Linked DNA regions of Homo sapiens. The protein of the gene in region 4 interacts with the protein of the main gene of each other region in a pairwise test. Each region holds a gene or a part of one and is shown on either strand. Other genes may lie near its edges.

What was found.
Region 1: the proteins of TAX1BP1 (region 4) and TSEN2 interact in binary tests that used the Homo sapiens proteins (3 or more experiments, as listed by UniProt).
Region 2: the proteins of TAX1BP1 (region 4) and ARK2N interact in binary tests that used the Homo sapiens proteins (3 or more experiments, as listed by UniProt).
Region 3: the proteins of TAX1BP1 (region 4) and IGFN1 interact in binary tests that used the Homo sapiens proteins (3 or more experiments, as listed by UniProt).

What each region holds. Positions count from the first base shown.
Region 1 is NC_000003.12:12,504,980-12,508,479, reverse strand, and holds part of TSEN2 (tRNA-splicing endonuclease subunit Sen2), read right to left. Parts: intron 3,327-3,500; coding exon 3,249-3,326; intron 1,773-3,248; exon of another isoform or gene 1,645-1,772; intron 1-1,644.
Region 2 is NC_000018.10:46,177,034-46,180,533, reverse strand, and holds part of ARK2N (protein ARK2N), read right to left. Parts: intron 1-3,500. UniProt on the Homo sapiens protein: AMPK substrate important for exercise capacity and skeletal muscle function.
Region 3 is NC_000001.11:201,221,824-201,225,323, reverse strand, and holds part of IGFN1 (immunoglobulin-like and fibronectin type III domain-containing protein 1), read right to left. Parts: intron 2,586-3,500; coding exon 2,497-2,585; intron 646-2,496; coding exon 450-645; intron 1-449.
Region 4 is NC_000007.14:27,746,662-27,750,161, reverse strand, and holds part of TAX1BP1 (tax1-binding protein 1), read right to left. Parts: intron 1,645-3,500; 5' UTR 1,638-1,644; coding exon 1,476-1,637; intron 1-1,475.

The DNA of each region.
Region 1 (3,500 bases), on a different chromosome or scaffold from region 4:
AGAAACACTCCGCGGGTACATGCAGTGCACCAAACATAGGTGATTCATTCAAAAGAAATCTGCCAAAACAGAAAGACAAGTAGAGCTAGGTTTAACGGTGTGCTCCCTGAAAACTTCTGGAACACATCTCTGAAATGTTCTCAGGTGCCAGGCAGCTTCTAAGAAGGCAGAGTAACCTCATCTCCTGTCTCCTATTACTCTTGCCTTTCATCAGGGGGTGTTCAAGAGGAGGCAGCAGGCAGCAGCAGCCTTTAAAAAATTTGTCAATAAAAGACAGCAGCTGGTCAACTGGAACAGTGCAGCTGAACTCCCAGCATCTGACACGGAATACCCTTCGCCTACAGCTGCCACCTCCCAGGCCAGGCCTCCAGCCCACCCTCCATACTGATGCTAGCTCTGGTCACTGCCACTCCCCTACGGAATCCCCTGCAGTGCCCTGCTGGCCCAGGACCAGGCCAGACCCTGACTCATGGACACACCCTCCCCCATCTGGCATTCGTTTTGGCAGAGCTATCTGGAAGAGCCTTTACTACCCTGTGTCCATGTGGCAAGCCCCATTTATCCTTTACTATCCTCAGCTATCATGACTGCAAAAGCTTTCCACCTCAGCCCTGCAAGATGGTCTCCACCAGCTTCGATGCAAATTCCCTATCTTGTACATTCATTCATTTAATAAGTATTACGCACCTAATAGATGTCAGGCATTGGGCCCAAGGAAACAGGAAGAGCGATACTGACAAGATCCATATGCCACACTATGCTTATCACACTGAACTGTAATGATTTCTGGGCTATCTTTAAGACCAAAGTCACATTCTACTTATTTCAGTATCGGTAGCACTTAGCCCAATGCCTGGCACATAGTAGGTACCCAATGGGCATTTTTGTGATTGTAAAAAAGAAGGTTCCAACAAGCTGCTAATTAGCTTTTACAAGTAACTTAATAATGACAAAAATAGCAGGCACTAACATTTATTGAGCATTTACTATATTATCAGGTACTGTCCTGACCCAATTACATGTATTATTTAATTTCCAGAACATCCTATGAACAAGATGTTACATAGCCCCCACTTTACAGAGAAGAAATCTGAGGTTCTGACAGGCCAAACATCTAAGAACGGGTACATGTGGGCTATAAAGCGCTCCACAGTGCTGGGAATGCCTACGCATCTGCTGTTCAATACAGTAGCCAGTGGCCACACGTGGCTGTTCAGTGTTTGAGACGTGGCTGGTGCAACCGAGAAAAGGAATTTTGAATTGTTTATTCTATTTTATTTTATTTTAGAGACGGAGTCTTACTCTTTCACCTAGGCTGGAGTGCAGTGGTGCAATCTCAGCTTACTGCAACCTCCGCCTCCCGGGTTCAAGTGATTCTCCTGCCTCAGCCTCCCGAGTAGCTGGGATTACAGGTGTGTGACACCACACCCAGCTAATTTTTGTATTTTTAGTAGAGATGGGGTTTCACCATGTTAGCCAGGATGGTCTCGATCTCCTGACCTCGTGATCCACCCGCCTCGGCCTCCCAAAGTGCTGGGATTACAGGTGTGAGCCACGGCGCCCGGCCCCCACAATTACTTTCCTGTGGTCTCAGCTATAAAATTACCAACATGGATGTGTTCCATAGCACTTCTTGGGACCTACCTGTATGCCAAGAACCACACTGGACACTGCAGGAACTATCAAAGAAAGCCATCACAGAGCTCCTGGAGAAGAGGGGAGCCCAAGAAGCGGTCCTAGCTTCAAAGGCAGAAAAGACATTTCTGTGTGCACTATCAACATAAGCAAGAAAAGAGGGTCTGAGCATAAAGTGACCACAGGTTAGAGGAACTCCAGGTCACTGGGACAATATGATGCAGTTTATGGAAGGCCACTTTTAGCCACTTTTTTTTTTTTTTTTTGAAACAGGATCTCGCTTGTGCAGTGGCGTGACCTCGGTTCATTAAAGCCTCGACCTCCCAGGCTCAAGCAACCCTCCCACCTCAGCCACCCAAGTAGTTGAGACTACAGGCATGCACCGCCACACCTGGCTAATTTTTGTATTTTTTGTAGAGATGGGGTTTTGCCATGTTGCTTAGGCTGACCTTAAACTCCTGGGCTCAAGCTATCTGCCTGCCTTGGCCTCCCAGAGTGCTGGGATTACAGGTGTGAGCCATGGCACCAGGCCCAAGCTAACTTTCAAGAATGTAGCTACTGCATTAAGTAGAGGGATCCTGCAGAAGGAAATAAATCCATTTACTTAACTAGCAGTCACTACATGATCTGAATCATGTAGCACAGTATATGAAAAGTAGAGACTCCATGAATATACCAAACAATAGCGACTTGTACTCTTTAAGTGGATAAATTGTATGGTATATGAATTATAGTATTTTTGAAAAAGCTAGTGAAAATTAGTAACAAAATATTCAGCCAATCCGAAATCCACTTTTTTCTTCTTTCCACCCCCCTACCCCCGGCATCACCAGTCAGCATCTGTTAACAATCTGAAATCTTTTTATTCTTTTTTTTGTTTGACACAGAGTCTCACTCTTTCGCCCAAGCTGGAGCGCAGTAGTGCAATCGTGGCTCACTGCAGACGTGACCTCCTGGGCTCAAGCAATCCTCCCACGTCAGCCACACAAGTGGCTGGACTACAGGCATAAGCCATCACACCTAGCCATCAACATAAAGCCTTTTTTTTTTTTTTTTTTTTTGAGACAGAGTTTCATTCTGTCACCCAGGCTGGAGTGCAATGGCACGATCTTGGCTTACTGCAACCTCCACCTCCCGGGTTCAAGCAATTCTCCTGCCTCAGTCTCCTGAGTAGTCGGGATTACAGGCATGAGCAATCACTCTAATTTTTGTATTTTTGGTAGAGACAGGGTTTTACCATGTTGGCCAGGCTGGTCTCGAACTCCTGACCTCAGGTGATCCTCCTGCCTTGGCCTCCCAAAGTGCTGGGATCACAGGTGTGAGCCCCCGCACCCGGCCTAACAATCTAAAATCTTAATGAGAAAAGAAGTACTCAGAAAAACCCCTCGAATCTTCTGTGGAATGATTGCAAACACATATCTTAGAACTGATGAAATAAAGGCTGAGGAGTGAAAGGCAGGCCTACTTGGGAGCTACCCATAGTGATTTCAATACTGAATTACAATATTCAATAATTGAATTACATACAGAACTACACTGTGAGGTAGGTTCACATATAGTGTAGTTCAGGCCCAGAGACCGATGGCTGAAATAATAATATGTTGAAAACATACCTCTTCTAGGCTGAGTTGCAAATACTCAAAGATCCTATATGGATTTCTTCTGCATATTAACCTGTTTCTTTGCACCAACTAAAGAGAAAGAAATACAATATATACAGAACAAATGGAAGCACTACATGTCATAGAGAATGTATTTTAAAATGAACATTTTTCTTATAAATTCCCAGGATTCACATTCTATTGTGTTAATATTATAAAGAATGATTAAAACACAATTTTTTTGAGACGGACTCTTGCTCTATT
Region 2 (3,500 bases), on a different chromosome or scaffold from region 4:
TGTTTCTCCAAGTTGGTCAGGCTGGTCTCAAACTCCGAACTTCAGGTGATCCGCCCGCCTCGGCCTCCCAAAGTGCTGGGATTACAGGCGTGAGCCACCGTGCCCTGCCCCAAACTGCTTATTTTATGTGCCCATTACCACCTGGCATGTAAATGCTCAGTAAATGGGTTTTTAATTTAACCAGGTATAAATACCACATATGCATTAAGTCCCTGCTGATAGATTTCCACTTTAGATTAATTGTCACTTAACTAGAAAATACTCATTTAGGTAGGTTTTAAAATTATTTAAAGTCAAGTTAATAATTTAGGAATTTACACCATCTACCTATTAAGTGGCAGAGTCTGAGCAAAGAGGAATGAGGTCCCTTATTTTGAACAGACATGAAAGAGAACAGAAACAAAACTTAAAACACTGTAAATTAAAGCCAAAATTCCTAACAACTAATCAAACAACTTATCAAATCTCAGTTATATTGGCTACTTTAAAGTATTTTAAAATCACATTTACTATTATCAGCTGCTACAAATATGTTCCGATAAATCTGTATAACACATAGATCACATAGTTTCCTCTCCTAGCAGTTCAGGAATATAGAAGAGAACTTTAGGCCGGGCGCAGTGGCTCACACCTGTAATCCCAGCACTTTGGGAGGCCAAGGCGGGCAGATTACCTGAGGTCGGGAGTTTGAGACCAGCCTGACTAACATGGAGAAACCCCTTCTCTACTAGAAATACAAAATTAGGCAGGCGTGGCAGCACATGACTGTAATCCCAGCTACTCGGGAGGCTGAGGCAGGAGAATCGCTTGAACCCAGGAGGCGGAGGTTGCGGTGAGCGGAGATGGCGCCATTGCACTCCAGCCTGGGCAACAAGAGCGAAACTCCGTCTCAAAAAAAAAAAAAAAAAGATAACTTTAAAAAAGCAAGATTACTTTTTAGTTTCACCCTGCTCCTGCTCCTTACTTTTACAAGGCCCTGTAGGCTGAGTGTGAAAACTGACTGACTGAACATCAATCCCACTTCTGCTGAGAGAAGCTGCCCACACAGAAGTAAAAAACACTGCTTCTTTAAGTGGAATCATAAGAGTTCTGAAAAAGTAAGGAAAAGAGGTACAGGTAAAGGCTAAAAGGATTCAGAAGAGTATCATGACAACAGTCAAACTCAAAACCAAGACTGGAAATTGACAACTAAAGAAAAATAACTATCAGATTTATTTAATCTGATGACCAAGAAATCAAAATAAATAAACCAAACTAAAATAAATAAAACCAATAAAATTTATATTCACTGGGCTGGGCTCAGTGGCTCACCTCTGTAATCCTAGCACTTTGGGAGGCCAAGGTGGGCGATCACTTGAGGTCAGGAGTTCAAGACCAGCCTGGCCAACAGGGTGAAACTTCGTCTCTACCAAAAATATAAAAAATTAGCTGGGTGTGGTGGCACGCGCCTGTAATCCCAGCTACTCGGGAGGCTGAGGCAGGAGAATCACTTGAACCCAGGAGGCAGAGGTTGCTGTGAGCAGATATCCTGACACTGCAGTTCAGCCTGGGTGAAAGGGCAAAACTCCATCTCAAAAAAAATTTGTATTCACTCAACTTAAGGATAATAAAGAAAAATATTTTTGTTGTTTTTTTTTTTTGAGAAAGAGTCTCAGGCAGTGGCATGATCACCACTCACTGCAGCCACAAACCCCTGGGCTCAACTGCTCCTCCCATTTCAGCCTCCTGAGTAGCTGGGACTACAGGCGTGTGCCACCACACCCAGATAATCTTTTAATTTTTCTGTAGAGACGGTTCTGCCATGTTGCCCAGGCTGGTCTCCTGGGCTCAAGCAATCCACCGGCCTCAGCCTCCCAACGTGCTGGGATTACAGGCATGAGCCACTGCACGTAGCCCCAGAAAAATCTTTAAAAAGTTATGTCAGGGCCAGGCATGGTGGCTCCCGCCTATAATCCCAACACTTTGGGAGGCCGAGGTGGTGCATCACCCGAGGTCAGGAGTTCGAGACCAGCCTGGCCAACATGGTGAAACCCTGTCTCTACCAAATACAAAAATTAGCCTGGCATGACGGCACATGCCTGCAATCCCAACTACTCGGGAGGCTGAGGCAGGAGAATCACTTGAACCCAGAAGGTGGAGATTGCAGTGAGCGGAGATTGTGCCATTGCACTCCAGCCTGGGCATCGCAGTGAGACTCTGTCTCAAAAAAAATAAATAAATAAAAATAAAAGGAATGCCTATCTCATTCTTCACATTCTACCTGGAATTCTTTCCTCCAAAAAGAAGAAAATTCCCAACCCATTAGCGGACTAATAAGGTACCTTTGCAACTTGGCCCTATCTCCATCTGCCCTATCCATTCCTTTTGAAAACTCAAGGCACTGGCCCCACTTAACCATTCAAGTGCACTGATAATCATGACTTTGGTTAGGCTGCCCTAGCCTGGCATGCTCACCTGGAAATCCAACTCGAACCTCAGGTTTAAATGTCTAAGCTCCTTAAGCACCAGGTGGCCTTGTTGGTCTTATTCACCACTATAGTTCCTGCAACTAGAGCACTGCTGGCACACAGTAAACACTCAATAAATTGTTGTTGTGAGAATAAAGACTCTCCATATGAATTATTATTTTTTGAAACAAGGTCTCACTTTGTTGCCCAGGCTGGAGTGCAGCGGCACAGTCACAGCTCACTGTAGCCTCAACCTCCTGAGCGATCCTTCCACCTCAGCCCCACAAGCAGCAGGGACTAAAGATGCATACCACCCCACCCAGCTAAGTTTTTAAATTTTTTATAGAAATGGGCTCTCAAGGCCGGGCACGGTGGCTCACACCTGTAATCCCAGCACTTTGGGAGGCCGAGGCAGGTGATCACTTGAGGTCAGGAATTCGAGACCAACCTGGCCAACATGGTGAAACCACATCTCTACTAAAAATAAAAAATTAGTCAGGCGTGGTGGCAGGCGCCTGTCTTAGCTACTTGGGAGGCTGACATGGAAGAATCATTTGAACCCGGAAGGCAGAGTTTGCAGTGAGCCAAGACCGCGCCACTGTACTCCAGCCTGGGCAACAGAGTAAGACTCCATCAAAAAAAAAAAAAAAAAAAAGTAAAGAAAAAAAGAAAGAACAAACGAACAAAAGAAGAAAAAGAAAGGGGCTCTCACTATGTTGCCCAGGCTGATCTCAAACTCCTGAGTTCAACTGATCCTCCCGTCTCAGCCTCCCAAAATGCTGGGATTAGAGGTGTGAGCCACTGTGCCCAGCCCCTTACAAATATTTTATCCACTCTATTTTCTATCCCCCTTCTATATAGCTCTCCCCTTTTATAGTCTCACAACTTTTTATTCATAGTATCATATGTACTTCATTTTGCCTAGAGAATTACAGTAACCCAAGAAACTTTATTTGGTCCCAAACTCTTTCCTAAAATAACAGAAGATAATGAAATCACTATTCCTTAAAGGAACACATTAAAAATCCAACATTTAGGCCGGGTGCAGTTGCT
Region 3 (3,500 bases), on a different chromosome or scaffold from region 4:
AGAGCCCCCACTGTTAGTCTATTTGATCATTTCTGGATATCCAGAAGCTCCTCCAGGGCAGGGGCTGTGTGGAGCCACAGCTGGGGAGGAAAGCCTTTATCCTGTGCAACGGCTGCAGACAATTTTGTCCCCTGGGTCTTTGGAGTGATGTAACAGTGGTAACCGCCTCTGCTCACTGACTCAACGGGAAGGATAACTGAGGTCGGAGAGGAGACATGACATGACTGTCTCTAGGCTCCTGAGGCAGAAGGACAATGGAAGTCCCCAGGGGATCTTCTGGGGTCCTTTCTACTTTCTATCATCAAGCATGGAGGAAAGGTGGAGAATGGTCACTTTGCATACCCAGCCCTGGTAGAGTGGCTGAGACCTATGATCAGACCAGTGGACACCTCTTTGCCTTGGTGAGTGGCCGAGCCAGCGTCCAGAGCCCAGAGCAAGGCCTGCCTCACCTGCCACCCTGATACGGAAGCTGTGGGCAACCTCCTTCCCCTGCAGGGTCCTCAGCACCACAGTGTAGAGACCACTGTCTGAGAGTCCAGCCACAGGGATCAGAAGCTGGGTGAGGCCATCCTTAGTGACAGTCACACTTCTTTTGGGCAAGGGCAAGCCATCCTTCAGCCAGGTCACCTCAGGCATGGGCATGGCCTGAGAAAGGAGAGGAAGGAAAAGTTGAGAAGGGGAAGCTGGCAGTTTCATGGAGGTGATGGCATTTAAGCTAGGCCAAAGGTAGAAGCGGTGAGAAGAGTCTTCTACAAGGAGAAAGTCGACCAGAAAACACAACGTCGACAAGAAAACACAGGTGGGAAAGAGGGGTGGTGATAAAGTGTGAGGTTGGCAGGCGGGTATGGTAGGGGGGCGGTAGAACAAGAAAGGAAGTTGGACGAAGAGGTTCGGCAAAAATGCAAAGTGCCCTCCACGTCACACCTCTACAGACATCTGGACATTATCCTCTCAGCCAGGAGCCGCTGTTGTCAGATTCTGAGCAGGAAAGCATAATGAGTTCTGGATTCACATGGCAGGGGGTGGGATGGGAATGAGAAGGGATGTGTGGGGAGGGGAGTGTTAACCACCCTGGCAGCCAAGACCATGTAGGAGATAATTTGGCAATAGTCTAGGAGGAAGATTGCGGTGTCCTGGCCTTGAACTGTGGTGACCCTGAGCAGGGTGGGAAGGCCAGCCCAGCTGCTTGGTGACCATGCCGTCAACTCCCTACGGGGCCCTCAGTACAGGGCACGGTGGGCACCAGAGTCAAACGAAGATGCTGATAGTCACTAACTGACCTCACAGGATTGTTCTGAGAATTTAAGGCGTTAATAATAAATACACGGAAAGCAGAGAGAACAAGGCCTAGGACATGGTAACTACTCAATGTGCATTAAATATTTTTGCCATCATTATCATTGTCATTATTGTGGTTAAGAACAAGTCATTTAGAGTAAGATAGACTGGTTTGAATTCCTACACAGATGATGATGATTTTAAACAATAATAATATTAAAACATATTGGGTGCTGTCATATGCCAGGCCCTACATATACACTTTCAATATATTAATTCCTTGAACCCTCAGACCTTTGAGGTAGGTTACTATTATTATCCCCTTTTGACAGATGAGGAAGGTGAAACACAGAGATGTTAAGATATTTGTTCTGGCTGGGCACAGTGGCTCACACTTGTAATCCCAGCACTTTGGGAGGCCGAGGTGGGCAGACTACGTGAGGTCAGGAGTTTGAGAGGCCAGCCTGGCCAACACGGCGAAACCCCATCTCTACTAAAAATACAAAAATTAGCCGGGCGTGATGGCATGCGCCTGTAATCCCAGCTACTTGGGAGGCTAAAGCAGGAGAATCGCTAGAACCCGGGAGGTGGAGGTTGCAGTAAGCCGAGATCGTGCCACTGCACTCCAGCCTGGGTGACAGAGTGAGACTCCATCTCAAAATAAATAAATAAATAAATAAATAAATAAATAAATAATATTTGTCCAAAGTCAAACGGCTGTGAGTGATGACATCAAAATTTGAACCCAGGCAGTTTGTACTTTTAGCCACCACCCTACTGTTGTAAAGTCAGGTGGTGTTGGTGTTGGTTAAGGATCACCCTGAGTCAAATATAGGTCATGTGCTTGCACAAAAATACATTGTGAAGTCAAAGGGGATCATCTGCACGACCGGCTCCCTGAATTCCCAGACTAGGAGAGGTGGAGAACCGAAGAGCCTTAGTTTGGAGGTGCAGTAGCTGAAGCTACCACTAGAGGGATTTGCAGGCCTGGAGCAGAATGGCCACCCAGCCGCCAAGTGAGGGCAGTACCTTCAAGGAGGACCTGAATCCTTCCTGCCTCATGTCTCTCACCTGATTTCCACAAGCCCAGTCAGTGATTTCCACAAGCACTGACTAGGGGCCAAAAAGGAACAGGGAAGAAAAGAGAGCCACAGGGCTGAGTCTGGCCCCCTTGGCCTCTCTGGGCTTCCCTCCCCACACCCCTGCAGGTACACTCACTTCAAAGGAGACGGGCACACGAACTGTGTCCCCGACCTTGACTGTCAGCAAGTCCTTGGTGCTGGAGTCCACGAGGAACTTGGGACAGACTGAAACGCACAAGAGGACTGGTTACCTCCCTCCTCCCTCACAGTTGGACCCCAGCCCCAGGTCCCCAGCAAGGTAGGGCTGGAGGGGAAGACTGGGCCAGTCGGATTGATGCTGAGATCCCAACATACTGGGGCCTCTAAAGGACTGGAGTACAGCTGGGAGCAGAATCTTCAGGGGAGACCCCAGGGGCTGATGGGGAGATGCTAGCGGGGGAGGGACAGGAGCTGAGAAAGGAACCCTGCAGGGAGAGGGGTGGACTAGGCTGGAACAGAGGAAGATGCAGACATGTGGCAGAGCGCTTATGTTTTGCAGATGAGATAAACACCAATCTAAGACAGGAAATGACTTGCCTGAGGTCACACCTTGTTCGGGAGAGAGCCAGGACAAGATTCTGGGACTTTGGACTCCGTGTGCTGTGTTTGTGACTCCCTACTGCCATAGTGATGACTAGGGTCAGCTGGGGTGGCCCAGTGTCAGCTTGGGTCAAAGGCAGATCAGGTGCTTGTGGTGGTTAAAGCCCAAAGGGAAAGACAATCCTCTTTTCAATAATAACGGGGAGCTGGGCATGTCCCATTCTGAACGTGAACCATGGGAGCTGAGCGGCCCTTAGGCCTTCGAAGGCCATGCCCGGGAAGCAGCCACTCTCTCTCCTACAGAACATCAACTTTGGAGTCTCCAGGTTTAAATCCTGGCTGTACCACATACCATTAGTGACAACTAGGGCAAAGTACCTTGAACCTCAGTTTCCTTCTCTGTAACTTCGGAATAAAAACATTAATATTGTAGTATAGTTATGAGTCGTAATGAGAAAACATTTCTAAGAAGGGACTGCCTAGCCCAGTACCTAGCACCTAGTAGGTGCTCAATAAATGTTACTTCCTGAAACTGAGGGTGGGGATCCTGGCTTAGTAAGT
Region 4 (3,500 bases):
AAAACATCAGTTCTCAATCAGTATCTTTAACTTGATACCAGTATCTCCCATAAAATCGAAACTACTACTGAGGCCAGGTGCGGTGGCTCACACCTGTAATCCCAGCACTTTGGGAGGCTGGGACAGGAGGATCACTTAAGCCTAGGAAGTTAAAACCAGCCTAGGCAACATAGTGAGACCCTGTCTCTACAAAAAATTTTAAAAATTAGCCAGGCGTGGTGTTGTGTCTATAATCCCAGCTATTTGGAAGGCTGCGGGGAAAGGATCACTTGAGCCCAGGAGGTCAGGTTGCAGTAAGCCACTATCCCACCACTGCACTCCAGCCTGAGTGATAGAATAAGACCCTGTCTCAAAAAATAAGAAATAAAATTTAAAAACTACTCCTAATTTCATAAAATTGTTACAATGAATGTTTCTCCATTTTGGGATTTGACAAGCCTAAAAAACTGACACAAAAAGTAAACAGTAAATAACTATTGTGTTGTATTCAGAAACATCAAGAAATGAGGAATTCAAAGAAAGGAACTAAGTCATTAAATGCCAAAATTGTTTTGTCCAAATGTTTTTCTGCCTTCCCGTCAGGCTGGACTTTTACTTCTAGACACTTTCAATGTGCCTAATTTCTAGCAGCTATTCATTTCTTTCTTCCTTGTTGTTTAACTTTATACAGATTAGACAATCAAAATTTCAAGCCCATAAAAATCTTAACTAAAATAAAACAAACTGATTCTGAGGAAGACTACAGAATAACACAGGAGAAAAGTGAATGTGTTTTACTGTTTGGACATTCGTGACATTATTTTGACTGCTCAGAGGACATTCTTATGTTTTGGTTTTCCACTACATTTTGAAGAGTTAAAATTGCCAGAAAAAGTCCTGCACAGTGAGGTGTACCACTGTAATGATCACCTTCATTTTCAAGAAAGTATTATACAAAATCACTGGTAAAATATAAGAACTAGAACTCCTGCCATCAAAGAGTTTACTATTCAGTCATGTTAAACAGAATACTTTAAAACTGTGTAATACAAACAGAATACTCTTAAAACTGTGTAATACAATCTGAGCAATATTTAAGCCATGCAGGACAGTAGAAGGGATAATAACATGGCTGTCAAGCTGTATAAAATTAATTTCAAATGACTGGAAAAAATGGTAAATAATATAAGAACCCAAAGAAAAAGATCTTTTTTTATTGCAGGTAATGAATGGAGAAAATAGGAAAAGAAGATTCTGAAAAAATTTTCACAAGTCCTTAAGTGAAGGTAAACTTTCTGATCAGGGAGAGGAAAATCTGGTGAAATGGAGTTCCCAACATCCATTTTATCTACTCCCCACTGTTAAATATTTCATGGTGATGTTTACAAAAATGAGTCTTAATGCAGAGTTAAGGCAAGTAAAAGCTACTTATCAATCTGTTTTAAAAGAAAATTTTAAGTGTTTACATGGAGAACATATTCAGAAAGCTTTCTTACCTTGAATATACCAACCCAATCTTTTGGATGTGGATGAATATATGGAGTTAAGGTGTAATGACATTCCAGGTGTGCATTAGGAAGGTAACTCTTGGCCACATTTTGAAAGATGACATGGGCAAAGTTGGAAGTCTGCAATGGGACTTCTTGAAAGGATGTCATTGTGAATCTGAAACAAGTAATTCATACAAGTTAAATTATACCAACTAAGAATAAACTTATGCCTTCAGAAAATACATAATATTTAATATAAGTTTCATGAATATTTGCATGTCATAATTAAGAAAATATATACTTTGTAAATACTGGAACTTCTTAAAAATTGATTAAATATAAAAATACAGACAAACTGGAAAAATAACTAAAACCCATTTGGCTCAGAAAGTTATATGGGCATTTAAAAGTTAAAAAACCAAAACCAAAAATTAACTCTCCTGGAAAGCCTAGCCCTCTGCTTCTATTTAAATCAAAAGCAAATGAACCAGAGGTGTTTTTGTGCACACGCTGCCAATATAAACCTGCTGGCTCCTAGTAACAAACACTAAGAAACAGAAACAAGAACAGTTAAAAGTCAGTATTTTACTGGCTATGGGTCAATTAACATTTCCTTCCTATGTAGAACCCTTGGGCTTCATCATTCTCCTCCCTAACCTAGCCCATCCCATTCATCTCTTCCCCTCTCCCTAGGTTTTGGGGTCCTATAACTAAACCTGACGCTAACATCTCTGTGCCTACATTCCTGCCCTTCTAATCCCCTGGACCAGCATTTCTCAACCCTGGTTACACATTAGAATCATTAGGGGCCTTTAAAAAAAAAAAATAGATGACAACAACTTTCTGGGATTGGGGCCTGGGAGTGTGTGCATGTGTGTCTGTGGGTGTGTATACGAATATACATAGCCCTGCCCCTACATCGCCCCAAGTAATCTCAATCCTGTATGCAACCAGAAAAGAGAACCACTATCCAACAACTTCTACCTCTCACTCATTTCCACAGATCCCAGACCCAGCCTGTCTTCTTGGGCTTCTGTTACAAGCTTGTTCAAATCTCTCAAACCATGTAAAATCTTAGCTGGTCTACTTGAAATGGCTCAGCCTATTTGTTCTTCTCCACCTATAACAAACCTATCATTTCATCATAGGTCCAATCAATGATCCTACCTCAACTTCTAGTATTCACGTACCCTTTCCACATGTTTACTGATTAAAATAAACTTATATTTAAAAATAAAAATAAAAGTGTAGTGTTAATAAAATACACACTGTTGAAAATCTCTTAGAGATTCATGAACGCTCACTGGCTTAGTAAACACCAAGCACTGGATAGCAGATGAATGGTGAAAGCAGATTATAAAAACTGCAAGATCCAAATGTTTTCCCTATTTTGTGCTCTACTTTTGAGAAAACAGAAACAAATGAGGATTTACCCAAAAAAGCAATCTGTAGAGTTTGTCACAGGCTCCGTACAATCACTAATTCTACAATACACATAAGAAACTATGACTGTCCTGACTGCACTTGCTTGAGTCATTAAAACAGGCATCTCTGTAATAATGGGGAAAACTGGGGCAAGGTTTTTGCTAACCAAATTAATCTAATTTACTTCACAAATCAATGAAGTTTCTACAGAGCAAGCACAGCAGTAAGGCTCTACTCATATTTTAGCCATTAGTAAGAAGGCTTATTGCTAAGATCTAAAACAGTGTGCTTTTACAACTGTTTCTTTTGCTGACCTGTTTGAAATACTAAGGCAAATTTTTAAAGTTTTGTAATAATAAGCACTTTAAAAAATATCAACTTTCTTCTTGTGTCCCCTCTGCTTCTGTTATGGCCAAAGTCCTGCTTTACTGAATATAATGGATATCCCAAAAAGAGACTGTCAATCATGAACCTGGAAACCACTGTAGAGTATCAGGCTAGTTGTCAGCCTCTCCCTACCTGAGGTTTGCAAGCATTCCAAGATAAAGAGTATATTCAGTAGCAATCCCCCTTTACCTCTGCACTAATAAAGGGACTTTGCTACCA